Linked DNA regions of Homo sapiens. The protein of the gene in region 2 purifies or fractionates together with the protein of the main gene of each other region. This does not show direct contact. Each region holds a gene or a part of one and is shown on either strand. Other genes may lie near its edges. The genes, in order: RGS3, SEPTIN3, HCN1, MBIP, PCMTD2 and HSD17B8.

Region 1 (3,534 bases), on a different chromosome or scaffold from region 2:
AGCAAGTAAACCCAGGCTGATGTGGGGAGGGCCTGGGATGGACAAGGTCTTGGAAAAGCAAACTTTGCCATCCTGAGCCCCAGCAGCCCCAGCCCTTGATCCAAGGGCCCACCAGCACTGCATGACTCAGCCTCACCTTTGATCCACTGTTTTCCTGGCTCCCTTCTTCCTTTCTCACAGAGGTTCACAGAGCGTTAGCCTGGGGCGGGCCCTGTGCTAAGGGCCCAAAGTCAAGGCCAGCCTGGTCACTGCCCTCCCAGAGCACAGGGGAGGAAACACTGGGACACACTCACTCCATCTCAGGCCAAGGGTCAGAGGAAGAGAGCTGAGGTTCTGGGGGCCAATCTGTGGCCAGGGCCCCAAGGCATCCCATGAGGACTCCCAGGTAAGGTCACAGATAGGCTTCCTGGCTGAACCTGAACTAGCCACTGACTCATGTGCCTGCTGAGGCCCATGTGCTTGACAGGTCCACAACTCCTACTTTCAGAAGTCCATGAGAGGGCCTTGCCATCTGGATGCTCTTTTCAAACTGGCACACAATTATTGAGCTCCTACAGCATGCCAGGCTCTGTGGACATACAGAGGCATGCAGCCTTGGTCTCTGGTTCCCAGAGGAGCACGAGGGTACACAAACCTCTCCAGAGTGAAGCAGGGCACAGCGGGCACTAAAGAAAAGCAGGAGGACTGGGCCATTCTCAGTCCTTTATGCTCCGACTATGGACGCCATGCTTGGCACATGGTAGGAACTCAGCAGAGGCTAATGCAGGGAGGACAGCCTGGCAGTGTCCCACACACAGGAGGATGTAGGGTGGTCTGCCAGCCCATTCCGGCTGCTAAAGGCAGCACAAATCAGAAAAGGGATTCAAGGGGTCCCGAGAGACCCCCTAGAGAAACTGGGACTTGGGGTGGGCCCTGGTGAGGCACAGGGAAGGGTGTCCCAAGTGAGTTGAGACAAAGGCCAGCTCAGCAAGCTTGGAAAAGGTCAAGGGCACAAGCCTTGTCAGGAGACTTCTGTCTCCTTCCTTTGAGGGTTGTCCCTGCAAGACTAGGCACCTGCACTCATTCACCTACCCACCATCCCAGGGCCAGGCATAAGGAAGGTGAGTGGGAGGGGGCTCAGAGTGACCAAGGGCCTTGGAAGCTGCAGGGACCTCTGAGGCTCTGCTTCCCACCAGCCCCGGGCCTGGATTCAAAGCAAGTTTGTAAAACAGGAAACCTGACAGACAAGGGGAAGGGGGAGGAGGCAGGAAAATACCCCGTTCCCATAAGAATTCTGGGAAAACACGCAGCTAAGACAGGAAGAGAAAAAAATGGAAAGAAAGAAAGAAAAACAAACGCGGGTACGAGTGTGGAAAGCTGGGGGAAAGGAGCAGCCACTAGTTGCCGGGCCCGCCTGAGGCCAGGGAAGACGCCAGGAGCCTGGCCCCCTCCATGGAACCAGCGGGGATTTTTTAGGGGCCTCACAAGCCAACCCTCAACCCAAGCACAAGCTGGGGTCCCAAAGCCTATCCAGCACTTCCCCACCCCTACCCCATCCAGGGCCAAAGCCCCCTGCATAGAAAACCCATCCCAGCACCCTGGGCTCTGGATGGCCAGTTATGGGGCAGTAACTGGAGAGTGGGGTCTGGGGAGGAGTGTGCTCCAAGAAAACAGCCTCCTCCTCCCACACCCAGACCCCACATCCAAGCAGGACTGTGGGCTGGGGGCCCCTCACCCTCCTGGGCACCAGCTTAAGAAGTGCCAGCCCAGACCACAGTCCAAGCCAGATGGGAGTGTGAAGGAGGGGAAGAGGAGAGGGTGCCGGGAGGCAAGCTCACCTCCTAGCTCGGAGGAAGCAGAATTACACTCTGTCCACCATGATCACTGACCACATTGAGAGGGTAGTGTCCAAAGAACCTGACCATCCCTGCAGCCCCTAGGGGAATGAGTATGCCCATTTTACAGACAAGGAGATAAGACTCGAAGTGCCACCCCCTCCACCCTCCGGCTCTCAGCCCTGCTCTGACCTGGAGGTGAAAGGAGCAGCCCTGCCCCGAGGCCTTGGCGGCTTCTGACAGAGCCTGTCCTTCCTGCGGGTGGTTCTCGCTCTTTCCTGTCCAGGGCAGGAACAGCCACTGCTCCCAGGTCTCACCCATGCCAGCCCCTTACCTCTGCTCTCCTGTCTAGTTTCTGTTCCTCTGTCCTGCCTAGACTGTAATCCCCAAATTCTGCCATGTATTAAACACCTCCTAGATAAATATGCACAGCAGACACTGAGCCAGGCTCTTCACACACATCATCCTATTCACTCCCATGGCACCATCGCTGGATTTCATTATCCTATTTTACTGACTAGGAGATAAAGGCTCAGAGAGGAACAGTGACTTGCTCAAAAGCCACAGCTAAAGAGGAACAGAGCTAGATTTGAGCTCAGACCTGACAAAAAGCTTGCTGCTCTCAATTCTGCACTGGTTTCTAACACAGAAACCATCTTGAACTCTGAGTCCCTGAGCCCTAGGTCCAGCCCACAATTGCTCCTGGCCCCACTCTGACAGCCAGCATGCCCAGTCTTCTAGCCCATAGCCCCAGGGTGACCAAGGACTACTAGATGTCCCAACCAGTGCTCTCTCTGTCTCACCACTCTGCCATCCAGACGCTAGTGTCGCAGGGGCTGCTTTTCCCAGCCCCATGAGGGCAGGAAACACAGAGTGGGGCCTGAAGGGCAGAACCTGAGAGCGGGGGAGGGCTAGAGAGAAAACACTGGATCCCCTAGCAGGCAGGTGGGGGGGCAGGGACCCCTCTGGGCATCTCCCTGGGACCTAAGCACTGCCAGTCAGAGGAGTCAAGACCCACAGTCCAATCTGGTCATTAAAACAAATAGAGGGGCTTCTCTATGTGATTTTTTAAAATCAGGACAATTTCAGAACTCCCTTCCAGATTAGATATCACTTGCCTTCACCATCCCTAACCCCATTCCTATTTTATGAGAAAAAATGGCCCATCACAGTTCTAGAAGAGGCTCAGGGGAGCTAATGGGATCATAATGGCCCAGTCTTCCCCCTTTCTAAGACCGGAGGCTAAGAGGCCAAACCCTCACTGTAAAGTTGGATTCCAAAGCCAAAGGAATCCTGAGCCATAGTGAGGCATCAGCAGTAGGGGAGAGGAAAGTTATACATATGTACATATACACGAAAACACCCGATCTCACATATGAGCACGTGCCAACATACACGCACAGGGGGCAGAATGGGCACTGCTGTCCTGTCAGAAGCAGGAAAAGTTAGCAAAAATACAAACTCTGCTCCCAGCTGCTCAGCAACCATGGCATTTTCAATCTCACACCCACAGCCCCTCCCCAGATAAAAAGAACAGAAAGCTAGCTGGATTATCTCACCAAAAACACCACCCAGCCAGTGGTTAGGACTCCATACAGAGCTGGGCCCTAAAGGGGCCTTGGGTCCAGCTCCTGTCTCTATCCTCCTCCCCATATCCAAGTGAGCCTGCAGGGAGCAGGAAAGGTCAAAGAAGACCTTGTGAGGAGCGAGATCCTTCTCA
Region 2 (2,673 bases):
TCAAGTAATTCTTCTGCCTTAGTCTCCCAAGTATCTGGGACTACAGGTGCGGACCCCGATTTTTGTATTTTTTATTTATCCCCAAAAATTAGCCCAGCTAATTTTTGTATTTTTCGTAGAGATGGAGTTTTGTCATGTTGGTCAGGCTGGTCTTGAACTCCTGACCTCAGGTGATCCATTTGCCTTGGCCTCCCAAAGTGCTGGGATTACAGATGTGAACCACCATGCCTGGTGATTTTATTTTTATTTTTAATAGAGGTGGGGGTCTCACTGTGTTACCCAGGCTGATCTCAAACTCCTGGGCTCCAGTAATCCTCCTACCTTGGCCTCCCAAAGTGCTGGGATTACAGGCATGAGCCACAGCGCCTGGCCCCATGTCTTAATCCTCATTCTGTTCCAACAGTGCTTGGCCAATGATTTGCAAATACTAGGTATTCAATATATGTTGAATTGGATTTGTCATGTAGTGCATGACCTTTTTAAAATGGCTCAATTATTATTTTCTCTGTGTTACTTCCAACCGGATTATAAGCTTCTGAAGAATGGGAAGTGTATCTTAGGCCTTGGCCAGTTTCTCAGACTTGGTATTAGTTTTCTCTTCTATAAAATGGTAAAAATTATAGTCCCTCTTGGCTATTATGCCACAGCGTCTAGAAGGATGTCGTGCCCATTGTAGCTGCTTAATATTTGTTCAATGAATCAAATCCAGTACACCCAAGTGAGCAAATCTCTGGAAGGGTTACAAAAAATGACCTGTCCCATAGCTTTCTCCTAAATGCCTCCGTGACCCAAACAGAAGCTCACCTCCTGGGTGTTGCTGTATTAATGAACTGACTACCTGTTTTGCTTTGTTTTGTTTTGTTCATAGTGGAAAACCTCAACCACTGTGAGTTTGCCCTGCTTCGAGACTTTGTCATCAGGTAAGATGTCTCCCCTCCAGCTGTCCAGACAGCAGGTTGAATTATTTGGGGTCAGGGTCTATCTGTTCAGATTCACCTCCTGCATCTCCAGGTCTCTCTGACAGAGCTTTCTGCCCCAGTTCCAGCTCCTGTTGCAAAATGGAAGGTGCTGTAGAAGAATCCTTAGCTCCTGGGAGTGGTTCCCATTCACTGGGTCCAGTCCCTCGAAGTGATGTGTGTCACCGCCTCCTCTTCCTGCCCCTAATTGCAGCCCTCTTCTTCTCACCCTGTGTCCTCTAGGACCCACCTCCAGGACCTCAAGGAAGTGACACACAACATCCACTATGAGACTTACAGGGCCAAGCGGCTCAATGACAATGGAGGCCTCCCTCCGGTGAGCGTGGACACAGAGGAAAGCCACGACAGTAACCCATGACGACCACTTCTCTGTGTCATCACACATACCCACTTCACACACACACATCCCAAATACCACCACCAACCACCTTCTTCCTCTCAACTCTGTCCCACAGGCCTGTCTGGTATTTGTGGAGCATCTTGTCTGTGTGTGTGTGTGTGTGTGTGTGTGTGTGTGTGTGTGTGACAGAGAGAGAGCGAGAGAGCCTGTGTGTGTGCATGCAGGGGTGAGGTATTTTCACTGCCCTCCCTGGAGAGTCCCTTGTAAGTTTGGCTCCTCCATGCCTGTCCATTATCTGTCTCCTTTCCTTGTGTCCCAAAACAAAGCTGTTTGCCTCACTCAGGAGATCTGGGGGAGGTTTCATTTAAAAGTGCTGGGAGCAGGTGAGCCACAGGCAACTCTTCTCTCGGAACCTGCACACAAACTGGGGCTATAGAGATTCTCCAAGGACAGATGGCAGTGGAGCTAGACCTGAGTAGGGGGCAGGGAGTTCAGGACAACCCTCCTGTAAGTTGGGGGTGGTCTGGGGGTAAGGCTGGGGCTTCCTGGGAAAAGGAAGGCCATGAGAAGGCAGAGAAGTAGGCCAGAGCTGGGTTCTTGCAGAAAGCATCAGTGCCTACAAATGGAGCTCCACCCTTCAGTCTGTGTCGTGTTCAGTGTCACAAAGCTACCACCTGTCACCAGAGCCTACTGCTGCTCTCCACTCAACTGGCCTCTGCTGCCAGGCCACTGCCTGTCTCTGCTTCCGACTTTGTCTTCTTTCTCCCTTTCCCTCCTTCCCTCATACATTGCTTTCTCTCCCTCTCCTGCGTGTCTCTGACATCTCTCACTTCCTTTTAGATGAATCTACTTTAGGTTCATTCCTATATTTAGCATTTATGCCCAGTCTACTTCCAGAAATGACTTTAGACTGCCTTTCACATAAAATCACAAAACTACAGGACAGTACAAACAGATTGCCAGAGAAATCTGGGTCAAAGAAAGGAATAGGAAAGAAAGTTTCTGTAGTCAAGCACCTGAACAGGCCCTGAGCTCACAGGCAGCCAATGTAAAGAGGGAAACACAGTGAGTTATGCAGTTCCCAGTGTCCAGTTAAAGGAAGCACACATGCTAGTCATGTGAGACAACCTTTTATTGGGACATCAGGTTCTAGAACTAATTCTAAAGAAGTATCAGAAACAATATACATAATTTGTCTTTCTTAGTAATTTGGCTTCAAAGACAAATTTTTGACCACACCTCCGTTTTCTCCGTCAGACTTCTCTCCCTTCTAAGCAGGCTTCTCTGTTGCTCCATTTGCTTCATACATACTTGACCTCTCTTTTCTATTCCCCATCACTTTTGTGCTGAAGCTAA
Region 3 (3,534 bases), on a different chromosome or scaffold from region 2:
GACTTTGAAGATAGGGATATGAACTCCTTTGCTTGATGATGGTTTAACTCAGATCTTTGGAAACTCCAGTTGGCTGAGCCCTCTCAGGTCCCACCCACTGCCTAACAACAGATGCTCTATTCAGCAAAATATGGGCCTGATTGGTCAGATTCACTCCATTTATTCACTATACTCTTTGTGTTTTCTATGTACTAATGTCCCTCATGAATATGTTCCTTTTTAGTATTATGAAATGAACTAATAGGGAGAAACTAAAATAAGTTACTATAGGCAAGGCATAACAATAAGCAAAATTAATATGCTAAAATCAAAGCCTTTATATATACAATTTGGAAATAAAGAAACAATCTGTTTTACCCAATCATGAATTCAATGAAACTTCAATATTAGAGGATACAAAAACCACACTATCTCACAGAGCTAATGATGTGCCAGATTAGCAATCAGACCCTACACATCTTTATCAAAATAATGGTACTTGATGTATTTATATTAGATTAAAAAAAACCAAGGTGGGAAAGGGGTTGTATTGATCAAGATAATAATTGCTGATTAAAGTGCATTTATTTAAAAATAAAATAAATTGGCATAAAACGATCACTATTTTTTTCAGTTCATTCAAATCCATTATTTGATCATATATTTTAGGGATACAAATATATCACTTATGCATGGAAAAGAGTCGTCGAATACATTTTTCTACTTGAATTTCATAAAACTCATTACACATTGCACAGTTGTTCATTGTAAAACAGCCATAATTAACAATTTCATGATATAGATTTAAAAAAGAAAAAGATGCATCTTACCTCTTCCCATTGATGTATGTATCTAATTAACCTTGAAAGTCGTAATAAACGCAAGAGACTGAGAATTTTTGTAAACCTCACAATGCGAAGTGCCCTGGCTGTCTTGTAAACTTCAGAATCCATTCCTTTTTCTACAATAAGAAAGATATAATCCACTGGGATGGATGAGATGAAGTCAACCACAAACCAGCTTTTTAAATAATTCATCTTGATCACTTTGGGGTCCAGGATGATTTCAGAACTGTCTTCATTGACAGTCCCAGTCCTAAAATTCATGATCAGGTCCAATAGGAAAACTGTATCTGATGCCACATTGAAAATAATCCATGGTGTTGTTGTTTGCTCTGTAAAGAATGTGATTCCAACTGGTATGATGACTAGATTTCCAACCATCATTATAAGCATTATTAAATCCCAGTAAAACCTACAACAAATAAAAAAATCAGATTTTAAGATATAGAAAATAACCAGCCTATCCCCCCCATGAAAAATTATTACTGATATATAGTGAGATCAATAAGTAAAAGAACAAAGAAATGATTTTATTTTTTAAAAATGTAATTCCTTAAATGGCTATATGTTTAAATCTAAGTAAAATTAATATATTCTTAAACCAAGGCATTATGATTATGGAATTCTAAAAATTATGTGATATGAAGCATTATACAAATAAAATCAAAAACATTCATACCCCCATTTATTTAGTAAAGAGGCAAAAAAAGCAACCTACCTTATACTTAATACAAAATATAGACAGAAACTAGAAAGAAGTATAAGATTAGAAGATCTGTAAGAAAGCCTTTGGGAAGGCTCTTTGAAGATGTTTTGAATTATTTTAGATGTCAATTTACCAATCATAGATTAGAAAAAAAAACCCAGAAATAAATAGGATACTCTAACAATTTTAGTTATGCAAATTTATCTCAAGGAATACAGATTAGTTTTGCCATGGAATCTAGAATACACTGGAGTTTTGCAGTACTCCAAATATTTTATGCTTTATTTTTCTTTTGCTTGAAATAAGAAAACTAATTTTGGTCTGATGCTAAAAAGAACTGAGCAAGTTCTACTCCATATTTGAAACTAGAATCTACCTAAAATTTGTGTTTTTATTACTACTCTATTGAACAACTACTTCAAATATATTGCCACTACTTTTCCATAAAAATTCTTTCTTTCTTTCTTTTTTTTTTTTTTTTTTTTGAGACGGAGTTTCATTCTTGTTGCCCAGGTTGGAGTACAATGGCACAATCTCAGCTCACTGAAACCTCCGCCTCCCAAGTTCAAGTGATTCTCCTCCCGCCTCAGCCTCCCGAGTAGCTGGCATTACAGGCGTGCCACCATGCCCAGCTAAAAAAAAATCTTTAACATTTCTAATTTAATTCTGAACATGCCTATGACTACTAAGTACCTTTTGAAATATTCTTATCTCAACTTACATTAAAATTGAGAGAAAACCAGGAACTTCATTGCTGGTTTATATAGCTTAACTAAATTAACTAAATTCACTTGACATAACTATAGTGTTATTTTTATAAGGGTTCTTTCAGTCTGTTGACACTCCTATTAATCAAATATTTATAGTTGTTACAGTATATACTTGCAAAAATGAAAAAATAAACACAACTGTATAATCATGAAATGTATCCAGAAACATGAGTTACTTTATCCTAGTCATAGGTATGTTATTTGAGGAGTTTTGTATAAACAATATAAACTTCCATGATAAAAATGTCTGTTTACCAAGATATTTTTGTTTTACATGAATACTCCTACTTAGACTATTTGAGCTACATTTTGGTGAGGTATACATGTGTATAAAGCTTTCAAAGTTACTATCATCTGTAATTAAGAATGACTCCTGAAATAAAAGTACTAGTTGAAGAAAAAACTATAATAGGCCCTATCTCCCCTGTCTCCAGCCTCAGGATGTTGTAAAGGATAAGCGTTTGTTATTTTGAAGATTTCACCAGTATTTCTGTCAAAACTTGCCTGCAATTTTTGAAACAACTGTACAAATACCCATGTCAGCCATACAACATGTACTGGCAGTTTAAATGAAATGGTTTTATATCTTCTCACAATGGAAATGCAAAATATACCATTCAACACAATAAGGACAGAGGAGAGATGTAGAGGAGGAGCAATATTGTAACAGCTATTTCACAAAGAAATGGCACCACTAAACTCTAAAATGAAACTGTGTGTACCCTGAGGATTTTTCACTTCTGGGCACTCCTATCAAGTCCCTTCTGTAAGCTTCTCTCTCTGCCCTCCCCTTCAAGGCTGTTGTTCCCCTGGGTGTCACACATAGCCCTTTCATCTTCTATTCTACGCATTGCCCTTGAGAAATATTATACACTTATCCATGCCTTTAATAATTAATTTGTAACTGATGACCCCAAAAGCTTTATCTTCAGTCCATTCCTATCTTCTAAGCCTCCTAATCCTCATAATCAGTAGCCCGTTAAATCTCTCTCCTGGCATATCTCACACTCATCTCAAACAGCATGCCTAAGCTCAAACTCATAATCTCCTCTCCCACATATATTCCTCACATATCCCCTATCTCAGGGAATGGAATAACTCTATGTGTGATTTGCAAGCCAGAAACCATGGAGCCATCCTAAATAACTCCTGGCCCTAAATCTGCTCAAACCCATATCCAATTGATCACCAAGGCTGTTTAGTTCTCACACCTAAATGTATGTTGTATTCATCCATT
Region 4 (3,534 bases), on a different chromosome or scaffold from region 2:
GTTGACTGTTGACTGAAACATCCTTATGCAGAGCATGACTGTCATACACACGTTCACGCACATGCACACACACATATGAATCCAGGGAACCAGTGCTCTAAGGAAACTCAAGGGTAAGGAGGCCTCTTCCATGACTGGCTTGCTTTCTTTCAGTTGTAAAAGGCAACTGATTCTATGCGTGCAGTATCTAAAATGTTTTTCTTCCCTTCTAGTCCCAGAGCCCTGATTCAGACCTTCATTTCTCTCTGGCTTGGATAATGACATGTTTCCTAAACTAGTTTCCTTGACTCCAATTTCTCTCCAACTCAGACTTCATAATGCCACCAGACAGGGACCTAAATTACAAGTTTCTCTCTTTCTCTAAAACTTAATTGTGCTCCAATGATACTAGAAGTGCAAACTGGTTAGTGTGACCTTCAAGGCCCTCTGAAATATGTTTACAATCTAATTTTCTAGCTGAATCCAGTTGTTCACTCATGCTTCAGACCCACCACACGTTCACACGCACATGGCCTGTGTACATGATGTTGACCTGATTTTCAGCATTCCCCTCCCCCGATACTTCCCTTAAGAACCAGGAGTTACTGTTACAGACTAAAAATTACTCTCAGTCAGTGCTTTGAACAAAGTTAACACACCTTCAAAGTCCAATAATGAGCTATCAGCCAAGTCCTATCCATTCATTTGCACATCTACTCGATATTGACTACATTCTGTGTCTCAAAGATGAACAAGACATAGTTCCTGCCCTTGAGAGTTTCAAAATATAAAGTGAAAAACATGTATAAACATATGAGTGATAAATGCTATAAACTAAACAATATACTTGTAAAAGCATGTTGGTACTTACTGTTTTCAAGTATCATAATTTAAAATCAGTAAGTCTTTGGAAATACTCTAAGATCGTTCTTTTAAATGGACTGTTAAGGCCATGCCCTTAAACTTTTGAAAACATTACATTTAAAGCTTTCCATGGCTAATGTGAAGAATAAAGATCTTTAGAACTCTTATATCAAAATGTCCAACAAGTATTATTAACTTTTGTCATAAATCCTGTTTTATACACATATAACTTATTTTGGAGTTTTATGTCTGGTCGTAAAATGAGAACTTTACATAATCTGATTACATTTTATAAAACAAATACAAATGACATCTTTTTTCCCCATAAATATTTGTTTTTCTATGCTACGCTTCAATGTTACCCATGATAATCAATCTCTATCCAATTGTAAGAAGCTCCCCCATGTTTAGAATTCATCTACATGTGAATCTGAATAAACACATTTCAATGAAAATCTTTTCAGAGTTCAGGAGTTCCAACAAAAGTTCAATCCTTAATAAACTGAATGGGCTCAACTTTCCTTTCCTATCTTTAGAAGCTATAGGACTGTGCTACATATGTAGTTTCTTCTGTATACTTTTGAGGGATAAATATGTAAAATTATGCAATTACCATGCATGTACTCCCAGCATGATGGTGAGGGTGATGAATAATGTACTATGTCCTCTGTAAGGTATGTGCTCAACTTCTCCTGTTTGCAAGGACACTCTTAGAGCTGACTGTATTCCAAGTGAGGTTCCTAAAGATGGCTCATTCATCCTATTATAGAAGGGTGATGAGTATGAAATCTTCTTTCCCATAGGGCTTGTGTCATGTATGTTCACAGGCCTAAAGGACAGAATGAGTCTGAATGTTTAAACTTTCCAGTGTTTTGTTCTTCCTTGTAGCTCACTACTAATTTAATGTGTCACTTACAACACTAATCCAGAAGAACTGCAGTTCTTCTAAAAGATATATAGTTTTTTTTTTTAACATATTTGGAAATACTTTTAAAAATCACCTGTTTTATCACAGGTTGCCACCATCCATCCTTTTCTGAATGCTTAATACATATATGCCAATCCTCTGTTTACATTTACAAATGCTTCCTGCCCCTGAAATTAGGCAGTCACCAAGCTTCAGACTTCAGGCCTCAGACAATCTGTGTTCCTATCCATCAATGGACTCTCACACTACACAGACTCTCCCAATTGTCCCAAGTGTAAGTGCCGTATCTCAAAAAGCTTACCTGATGTTTTTACCTTCATAACCTCCTCTGCCTTCAAATTCACATTTCCCACAAAAGTATCTCTCTCTCTAGATTTTCTTATTTCTATCAATGATGGTATCATTTTTCCAACCAGAAACTGGACTCTATCCTTGTTCTCTGTCTCTTTCCACATCCAATCATCAGTATTTGTCCATTTTTTTTCCTACTTGCATTAATCTTTTCCATTCTCACTCATGTCCCTATTTTAGGAACTAACTTCACATCTAAGCTAGCATAATACTATCTCCTTATCCTTAGTTTCTCTCGTTTGTCTCCCACAACTGTATTAGATAAATCTTTCTAAATATCGTGTTCACAAATCACTTCTCTGCTCAAATGCTTTCAGTAGATTCCCCCTGCTGCCTGCCTGGAAAATAGATTTTAAACTTCTGAGCATAGCACTTAAGGTCCTAACAATCTGGCTACTTCTACCTCTTTACCCACTCTATCCTATCTGTAACAGATCAAAACAAAACAAAAAGATTATGATGTGGAGGGCTTTTTTTTTTGTTAAACACATCTATAAGTTTTGTTTTTTTTGTTTTTGAGACCGAGTTTTGCTCTTGTTGCCCAGGCTGGAGTGCAATGGCGTGATCTTGGCTCATCGCAACCTAAGCCTCCTGGGTTCAAGCGATCCTCCTGCCTCAGCCTCCCAAGTAGCTGGGATTATAGGCATGCGCCACCATGCCCAGCTTATTTTTTTTATTTTTTATTTTTTTGTATTTTTAGTAGAGATGGGGTTTCTCCATGTTGGTCAGGCTGGTCTTGAACTCCCGACCTCTGGTGATCCGCCCACCTTGGCCTCCCAAAGTGCTGGGATTACAGGCGTGAGCCACTGCATCCGGCCTCTGTTAAGTTTTTATAAATCAGAATCAGAGAGAAGAGAGGAATGATGCTGCAGCAAGTTCTCATTGGAGGCATCTGATTTTACCATACTCTATTGTAAGATCGGTTCTATCGTTAATAAGAATTATATTAACAAGGTATGAAATTGAACTAGAAAAATAACTTTCCTAGGTTATTGCCTTCTTTAATGAAGGCAGTTAGAATGGGAAAAACTTATGGTAGACTACTGTAGGAAAAGTCATTAAAAATCTTTATGAAGTCTCCTAGGAAGACATTCAAAGAATAATCCTAAAAGTGAAAAGACCTTTGTAATTATGTAGTACAACCAATACATTTTCTAAAATTAGACATCTTGAAGATCAGAGGAATAGAGTGACTTTTCCACGTTTATACAGCTACTTTGTAGTTATAAAACTAAATAAATGCCAATGAGGTTTTTACCATGTGCTAAGCAGTATGCTAAGTGTTTGATCAGCATTATCTCATTTGATCTTTGCTTCAGCCCTTAGTATTTTCATAAACCTCATTTTACATTTGAGAGTAGTAAATCACTAAAACTCTTCTCTGAAATTTTGTCATTTAGGACTTGCTGCTC
Region 5 (3,534 bases), on a different chromosome or scaffold from region 2:
ACAATTAGAATTAAAACTCAGAACAGCTGGGGGGAAGGAGAAGGGGAAGGAAGAGGGAGGTGAGGGGGAAGGGACAGAAGAAGGAAAAAGAGAGAGACAGAGAAGGAAGGTGGAGAAAAGCGTTTCACGTGCAGGCTCTGAAGCACCCACCTGAGTCAGCTTCTGGCCCCAGCTAGGGCATGTGCGTGACCCTGCATCTCCCTCACCTGTCCCTGCCTCTGTTTCCTCATTTGTGAAATGCAGGAAATTGTTAAAAGAGTAAGTATCCGTACACTGCCCAGAACAGACCTTGGCACACAGTGTGCAGAAATGTCAGTTATGAAGGGAATCTGACCTTCTCTTCCAGTGGCATGACAAGGATCCCTCCCACTTTGAGAAGATTCTTCATGTACTCTTCATGCTCTTTCTGCACGCCAGCCCCACAGTATACACGATCATACTGAGAACAATCCGGAGAAATCTCCAGGCAATTCCCAGTAACAAAGGAAGGTTCACAGAAGTCAAACCTGGAAGTAAAAAATGCTTCCTGCAACTAAAAGTATCACATTGCAACAAGTCTATACAGTAAATCTATGCTAACCACAGGTTAAAATCCCACAGCAATGTAACACAGTTTACAGTGTGAGGAGCTGGAAGAAAAGAATTACAAATGTCCAAGAATTACTTCCAAAAAGAATTATACTATATAACTAGAACTCTAGAAATACCAAACAAAATAGTATGAAAGTGAATATCAAAAGTTTTATCCAAATTTCACACAATCTCCAGTCGCTGCTGTCTCTGTCATCTTCTTATCATCTTATGTAAGATCTATTAATACTACACAATGAGTGAGATGTGGGGGTGGTGAAACTGCACTTGGTGTTTCTAAAAATTTTAATCCCTAAAATAAGAACTTTAATGCCTTCTTTTAAAATGGCAAAAGCTAGTTACATATACTGTTTAGAGACAAATGCAACAATTTTATTTTAGGAAAAACTAGGTGGTAAACAGTTGTCTTCAACAGGAAACATGAATATTGAGCAAATGAACACCTTATGTATGTGTAACAGTTTGAAATACCCTAAAACCCTCAAAACACAGAATCTTTTCTGAAAATTAGAACAGGCACATAGAATCATCCCACCACAGTTTAATTATGTTTCCTACCACATGATTTCTTTCTATCTGATCAAAACTTTGTAAAATTACAGTTCACATCATCTGAGCCAATGGATAGTATTTCATCTTACTTGTCAAAACTATCACTTGTTCTGATGAAGAAGTCCAGTTTCTGCTTTGCATACTCTATCACATCTGAGTGAAGTTCCACCCCATGGTTCACACCAAAAGGACCTAAAAGGTTTAAGAATAAGAAAACATGTAGAACCAGAGTAAGAACTCTTGCTCATCTGTTCACTTCTACCAACTGTAACACGTCTGACTTAACATGTGTAACTACAGACATTCACAAAGTTTTGAAGTCTCATCACAGTATCACGGCTCACCACATCGTAAATACTTGAGGCCTGGGCTTCTCTGCTCACAAACTTTTAAAGAATCATTTGAAAATGGAGACAAACCAAGTGTTCAGGTCTTACTAATGAACTAAAGAAGAAACATGTATTTGCAAATGGAACTGACACAGGCCTCACCTGTTTGTCCAGAGGTAACATTTAAGACGATTCTGTTTTCCCTGAAAAGTTGCCCAGAACACTCAGATGTGAGCATTATAATATTCACAAAACAGGGTTCAATCATCATCATTAAGATAAAACTATGCTTCCAAGTCACAATGAAACATTTTTATATCAAAGGATATTTATCAGTAATTTGAAATACAACTGAGAAATGTTACAAGTCCACTTAATGATGACAGTGCTCCCCCGATATAAAACTGCCCCTACGTTAACTGGGAACACAGTATTGACACTCAACTTAAATGGGTCTCTCTGTTGCGGGAATCCACTTACATGAAGGTAAAAATCGGGCAAAATTCATCTTTGCCGACAAAGGCAAAACGGTCATCACCTTTCTGGAAGATGCAACACTGGTGAACTTTCTAGGAGGAGGAGGGGGCATGGGAGCCTTTTGGGGTGCTGATTCAACTCTGCATCTTGCTGTGGCTGGAGTTTATATGGCGGTGGATGCATATGTAAAAGTCCACCAGAATTCACACTTCACACTTGTTCATTTACTATGGGTAAGTTACACGTCAACTTTTTAAATCTACATGTAAAAATCACAAGGCACGTAGGACTTTACTTGGTAGACAGATATACTACTACAGTGATCATGTAGCACTGGACCCTACAATCTAACAGAAATGCTAAGAAATGGGCAACCTTCTGTGCATCCCACACCTTTGCACCGTGTGGGCCCTCCTAGTACAACAGCCACCAGCCCAGGCCAAGGCTTCCCTGGCCCCCATTTGGACAACTGTACCTGCTGCTCTTTTCTCTCCACGTATTTCATACACAGAGCTGCTGCTAAAACATTACCTCGTCAAAATACACCCTACCTGAGAGTTCCCCTTTTCACTGTTTACAACATCAAATCCTGAATTACTCTGAACGTCAAGACCTTCTGACAACTCCGACTTCAATTCCCGACTCTGCCAGAGACCAAAAATAGCGCTTGATTCTTCCCACTCATCTTATTTTCACTGACCCCTCACCTTCACTATCAAACACTTAATAAGCAGTTAATTCTAGTAACAGATATGAGATATGGTTCCTATTCCCAAGAAGCTTAACACCAAACAGTAGTAACACAAATACCTCGACCCACCTGCTTAATACAAAGATGACTAGCAGGGGAGGAGGACACAGGGTGGCCGGGGGGTGTCAGGAACACGGCACCTGGGACTCAGCACTGGAGCACGGCATGAAACCAGAGCAGCGAGGCCCCCCTGGCAGAGCCGCTCCTAGGTCTGCCCTGCTTCCGAATCACCCAGCACTTTTCAGGTAGGTGACTTATGAGCCACCATCTCTTAGTAGCTACTGTATTCTCCCCTGGTTGATGACAAACAAAGGTAAGGACAGCCCTGAGCAAAGGGGAGAGGAGCCCACAGAGCAAGCACAGGAACAGGGCTGACCCAGGATGCCGCTCAGGCCATGCGAAAGGCAGTCGGGGGTCACAGTAAAGAACTCCGTCAGATGAGAGACCCACATCCACAGGCGCCGGGAAGCCAATGAGGTTTCACTCTGGAGTGCTCTGCACCAAGTGCTATTAAGCTTGAATAAAAGCTGCAGCATCTGGAGACACAGCCAAGACACGCATCCATGACAGCAAACCCTGAAGTCACTTCCTTCAACTGCATCAAAGCAGCATGTTACATCCATTACAGCAGAAAACAGGCCTTTCCTTCCTTCAGACCTCTCTCCTCCCAAAATCCAATGAAATTTCCAGTAAACAGGGGATTCAGGAAAGAAAAGCAACTGTATCAAGTTGGAAGGCCTTTCCTTATAACTTCTAGGGGATGTCAAGTACAGCAAGGCCATTTCAGGCTTACTTTTTTTTTTTCTTTTTGAGATGGAGTCTGGCTCCGTTAGC
Region 6 (4,187 bases), on a different chromosome or scaffold from region 2:
GCGCAGACCCCCCTCCCCTTCCTCCTCCTCTTCCCAGCCCCCTCCCTCCTGCTCTCTCCAGCCCCTTTCATCGGCTGGTTCATTCCCCTAATCCTGGCCCCCTCCCCTAATCCCCCCCATCCGACCCCAGGCCGGCTGCAGCTATTGTAAGGTGGAGAGAAAGGGGAGGGGGGGACTCAGAGAAAGGAGAGGGGTGGGGGAGGGCCACCTGTTCCAAGACCCCCTTTCAAGGCCAGACTGGACACCAAGATGGGGCCATGAACAAATCACCCTTGGGGACCATAAGAACCCAGGGAGTTGGGGGGAGGGGACTGGTGCTGCAGAACCAGTGGAAAGGGGTGACGCACGAACCCCTCCCTTCAAAAAGACCCGGAGTGTCACGCATACACAGTGACACATACTCTTTCCTCTCACACCCGGCGGCGGGGGTTGCCCTGGGAGACCAGGCAGAGAAAGGGAACAATCCTTCGGGAAAGGGAAAGGAGGGGGAGGTGGGGAAGGGTCTGAGGGCTTGGACACAAGAAGAGCCGGAGGTGGCAGGGAAGAGGACTTGGAATTTATTAGGGTCACAAGCACCCCTGCTTCCCATATTCAGCATTCCTGAACCATACACTGCCACCCCTTTTGTATCCTGGGAACTTAGAGTCCTCATCAGCAGGAGGCCAGGCAGAGTGGTGGGGGGGTGAGCAGAGTCCAGGGTCCTTGAGGCAGTTACATGAAAAGACCTCCTGGGAGGGGCAGAAACATTTGGACAGATGCATGGGTGGAGACACAAATGGGCTAGGGGGTACCCACTTCTGTCCCTGGCCTTGGGAACCTCTGCCCTTCCCAGTGGCTCCAGACTCCCCTTACTTGCTTTCTCATATAGTCTGGGTTCTACTTCTCTGCCCTCTCCCTCCCCATGCTGGCCTCATACCAGTGACTTCCACTGAGGTCCCTGTGATGTATCCACTATCTTCAGATGCCAAGAATGCGACCACATCTGCCACATCTATGAGAATGGTGGGGAGAGGGCAGAATTCTGCTCACTCCCATAGACCCAAAACAGCCATAATCTCCCACCAAAGACATCCCTCCCCACAAACCTCTCCACAGACACCAACCACCAGTCCCCTAGAAAATCCCCAAACTTTGGGGATCTCTTCATTCAGGCCCCCTTCCCAGGGACCCCACTACATTCAGTGCTCACCCTCAGGGTCCCCCAAGTGTCCCATCGGGATCATTTCAGTAATCTGTAAGGAAATACTCATGTGGGTGAAAGCTTCTTTTATGGATTTTTTTGAAGACTGAGTCTGTGACCCTTTTTTGTCTTCATTTCTCATACATTCATTGAATATTTAATGTTTGCCAGGAACTGTGCCCAGTATTCTCTCTCTCTCTCTCTCTCTCTCTCTGTGAAGCCCAGAGAGATTGAGTCTCTGAATGATTCTGCCCTCCACCCACAGCCTCCTACCTTGTCCACCACTTTCTGTGGCACTTTCTGTGTCATGGGTGTTGCAATGAACCCTGGGAGGACAGAGTTACAGCGGATCCCATGTCTGTGGGAAGGAGAGTGGCTGCCGATTCTGGAGAGGGCTGAATGCTGGTACCTCCCTCAGACCCCCCAGGTGCTCCCCAGCACCCTCAAGCATCTGACCAACCGTCCAAGCTCCCGGGCTGCGGTCTGGGTCAGCCCAATCACTCCAGCCTTGGATGCTGCATAGTTTGTCTGCCCCACGTTCCCCACCTATAGGTGAGTCAGAGATGTGGAATGAGTCAGGAGTCTCAAGGAGGGGTTCTCCTCTCTATACCACTTGGCTGGCTGACCTCGTCCAACTCAACCTGACCTTTCCTACGATGCTACTGATGTTGATGATGGAACCACGACAACCATTGGACACCAGGGCTTGTGCTGCAGCCTGAGTGACTAGGAAGGTGCCCTGGCGGGAAAGGGTAACAAGGGAGAAAAGATCAGCTGGGGTGACAGCCCTCCTCCAACTCCCTCCCCAGGCTAAGGGGGCCAAACGTCGCAGGTTCAGAGATCGCCACCTTGAGGTTGACAGCTATGACTTTGTCCCAGTCATCCTCAGACATGTGCAGCAGAAACTCATCCTGGGTGATGCCCGCACAGGACACAACGACAGATGGTGGGCGAGAAAAGCAGGCCTATGGGAGGGGGAGGTTACGCATCAAAAACCCCCCACAAAAAGCCGGGGCAGTGGAGGCAATATCAGAGCTTTAGAGGGGGAAAGTGGCCTAGCGTTCACCTGCACTTGTTCCAGCAGGCACCTGGCGGCCCTGGCCTCAGACACGTCAGCCTGGAAGGCAGCATGGTTCCCTCGGGGCGGCCCCTCCTTGCTCCCTGGCCCGCCCAGCAGCCGCACCGTCTCCTGTGCCGCTGCCCGGTCCAGGTCGCAGGCAGCTACGGTGGCCCCCTCTCCGGCCAGGCGTACACTGACCGCTCGGCCGATGCCGCTCCCCGCACCTGAGGTAGGACAGAACACGCCGGACCGGGCACGGGGAGGAGAGGGCAGGGATCAGAGGTCACAGGGCAGAAAGTAAAATGTGGGTAAGGGGCCAGAGGTCACAGCGGCCGCGCACTCCAAGGGCACGCCCCTGACCTCACTCCAATACCCCAAACCGCCCGGGGAAAGAACCCCCTCAACCTGTGACCAAGGCCAGTGCGGAGCGGAGTCGGTTCTGGAGCTGAGACGCCATGGCGGGCTGTGGGTGGGTGGGAATCCCAGCACTAAGCCAATCCCAGCGCAGAGGGGCGTGGCAAGGGCAAAGCCGGGGCCAATCAAAGGCCCGCCAGCCTTAGGCCATCTGCGGCCACCAGCGCAGGCCGACCTCCCACCGAGGGGGCGTGGCCCGACACTGCTGCTTAGGGGCCCCGGGTGTGGAGAAGACAAGGGGCCCCATTCCCCCCAAAAAGACAAAGACTGCATGTGGGGCGGAAGATCGGAGGTCTTTATTTCCGGTTACCACCCCTCCCCCTCGATTCAAACACAGTGATATAAAAGGAATAGAAACAAAAAAAATCAGGCCATGAGAATACCAACTAACCCTCTCCCACCCCATCCCCCCAATCACTCCCAAATCAGGACACACGATTGATGTTTGATGTTTATCCCCGACTCCTCCTGTTACCCTCTCTGTCCAGGACTCTGGTCTTCCCTGAAGCCTCCACCAACTGGTGGGAGAAAGGAAACTGGACCTTGGAGAACTTCCTGTGTAGCAACTTGGTTCTCCGAGAACAGGTGGGGTAGGGGACACCAGGTAGGCTGCCATCACCCCCTGTCCCTTCCAGCCTTCTTCATGGCCCCATTTAGCCTTCCAAATGCAACATGGTCAGACAGTGCCCAACACTATGGTCCCTCTGGCCTCTCATTCTCACCGCTCCAGCCTCTGTAAGACTGCCAGCCCTTGAAGGCCCTAATGCCAAAGTAACCATTCTCCCAGGCTACAGTTCCTTCCTTTGGCAGATGTCCCTGGCCAGGGCCCCCAACCTCTACGCACCCCTGACCTGGAGTTAGGGGTAGAGGTTTGGGGCAGGGGTAGTTTATCCACCCCTCACTCAAGGTGGGCAATCAGCACCATCATGATAACTCCCCCCAGCAGCCCCAGCACCTCCAGAAGTGATTGCAATGGTGATGCCTCCCTCAGCAGCTCGGGCAACACAGACACTGTTGCTACGTAGATAAAGCCACCTGCAGTAAATGGCAGGACCCAGCCAGGACCTGCACCACCTGCAATTTCACTGCCCACTGCTCCTCCTTCAGTGAGAAGGGCACAGGCTGTGCCTGCCAGTGCCCCTACTGCTGTCAGTAGTTGCAGACGCATCGCCTGATGGGCAGAAAAGAGAAAAAGGCACTCACCAATAGCTAAAGATTATCAGTGGTTTAGAAGTGGCTGGTGGGGTATAGGTATAGGGGACATGGATTTGGAAACTAAACATCAAAATAAAAAGAGAAGAGGGAGCAGTCTAGAATAGACAATTTCTGAAAAATCTTAAGAGATCAGAGGTCCTTTCCACAGACTTTCTGATTGAGTAGGCGTGTGTGTGTAAGACTCCACTAAACCATTCAGATGGTTTATAGACCAGTTTAAGAAATACTGAGCTAAAGGACAAAGTAACCAGAACTTCTTCCCCCTCATTTCTAGAGGACTTGTCAATGACAGTATGAATTGTTTGGAACTAATAAGAG

Evidence for each region.
Region 1: the proteins of SEPTIN3 (region 2) and RGS3 purify together in Homo sapiens (co-immunoprecipitation; one large-scale study listed by IntAct). This does not show direct contact.
Region 3: the proteins of SEPTIN3 (region 2) and HCN1 purify together in Homo sapiens (co-immunoprecipitation; one large-scale study listed by IntAct). This does not show direct contact.
Region 4: the proteins of SEPTIN3 (region 2) and MBIP purify together in Homo sapiens (co-immunoprecipitation; one large-scale study listed by IntAct). This does not show direct contact.
Region 5: the proteins of SEPTIN3 (region 2) and PCMTD2 purify together in Homo sapiens (affinity purification with mass spectrometry; 2 studies listed by BioGRID and IntAct, with this or other methods). This does not show direct contact.
Region 6: the proteins of SEPTIN3 (region 2) and HSD17B8 purify together in Homo sapiens (affinity purification with mass spectrometry; 4 studies listed by BioGRID and IntAct, with this or other methods). This does not show direct contact.

Annotation. Positions count from the first base shown.
Region 1 is NC_000009.12:113,501,695-113,505,228, reverse strand, and holds part of RGS3 (regulator of G-protein signaling 3), read right to left. Parts: intron 1-3,534. UniProt on the Homo sapiens protein: Down-regulates signaling from heterotrimeric G-proteins by increasing the GTPase activity of the alpha subunits, thereby driving them into their inactive GDP-bound form.
Region 2 is NC_000022.11:41,993,422-41,996,094, forward strand, and holds part of SEPTIN3 (neuronal-specific septin-3), read left to right. Parts: intron 1-868; coding exon 869-920; intron 921-1,199; coding exon 1,200-1,293; coding exon of another isoform or gene 1,294-1,335; exon of another isoform or gene 1,336-2,673. UniProt on the Homo sapiens protein: Filament-forming cytoskeletal GTPase. May play a role in cytokinesis.
Region 3 is NC_000005.10:45,644,376-45,647,909, forward strand, and holds part of HCN1 (potassium/sodium hyperpolarization-activated cyclic nucleotide-gated channel 1), read right to left. Parts: intron 1,234-3,534; coding exon 810-1,233; intron 1-809. UniProt on the Homo sapiens protein: Hyperpolarization-activated ion channel that are permeable to sodium and potassium ions. Displays lower selectivity for K(+) over Na(+) ions.
Region 4 is NC_000014.9:36,303,633-36,307,166, forward strand, and holds part of MBIP (MAP3K12-binding inhibitory protein 1), read right to left. Parts: intron 1-3,534. UniProt on the Homo sapiens protein: Inhibits the MAP3K12 activity to induce the activation of the JNK/SAPK pathway. Component of the ATAC complex, a complex with histone acetyltransferase activity on histones H3 and H4.
Region 5 is NC_000020.11:64,262,230-64,265,763, reverse strand, and holds part of PCMTD2 (protein-L-isoaspartate O-methyltransferase domain-containing protein 2), read right to left. Parts: intron 1,336-3,534; coding exon 1,233-1,335; intron 507-1,232; coding exon 335-506; intron 1-334. UniProt on the Homo sapiens protein: May act as a substrate recognition component of an ECS (Elongin BC-CUL5-SOCS-box protein) E3 ubiquitin ligase complex which mediates the ubiquitination and subsequent proteasomal degradation of target proteins.
Region 6 is NC_000006.12:33,203,179-33,207,365, reverse strand, and holds HSD17B8 ((3R)-3-hydroxyacyl-CoA dehydrogenase), read right to left. Parts: upstream 2,712-4,187; 5' UTR 2,698-2,711; coding exon 2,646-2,697; intron 2,465-2,645; coding exon 2,247-2,464; intron 2,146-2,246; coding exon 2,029-2,145; intron 1,920-2,028; coding exon 1,827-1,919; intron 1,727-1,826; coding exon 1,641-1,726; intron 1,539-1,640; coding exon 1,454-1,538; intron 1,233-1,453; coding exon 1,190-1,232; intron 992-1,189; coding exon 917-991; intron 729-916; coding exon 712-728; 3' UTR 535-711; downstream 1-534. Other genes in the region: zinc transporter SLC39A7 isoform 1 precursor, read right to left, coding at 3,553-3,825. UniProt on the Homo sapiens protein: Required for the solubility and assembly of the heterotetramer 3-ketoacyl-[acyl carrier protein] (ACP) reductase functional complex (KAR or KAR1) that forms part of the mitochondrial fatty acid synthase (mtFAS).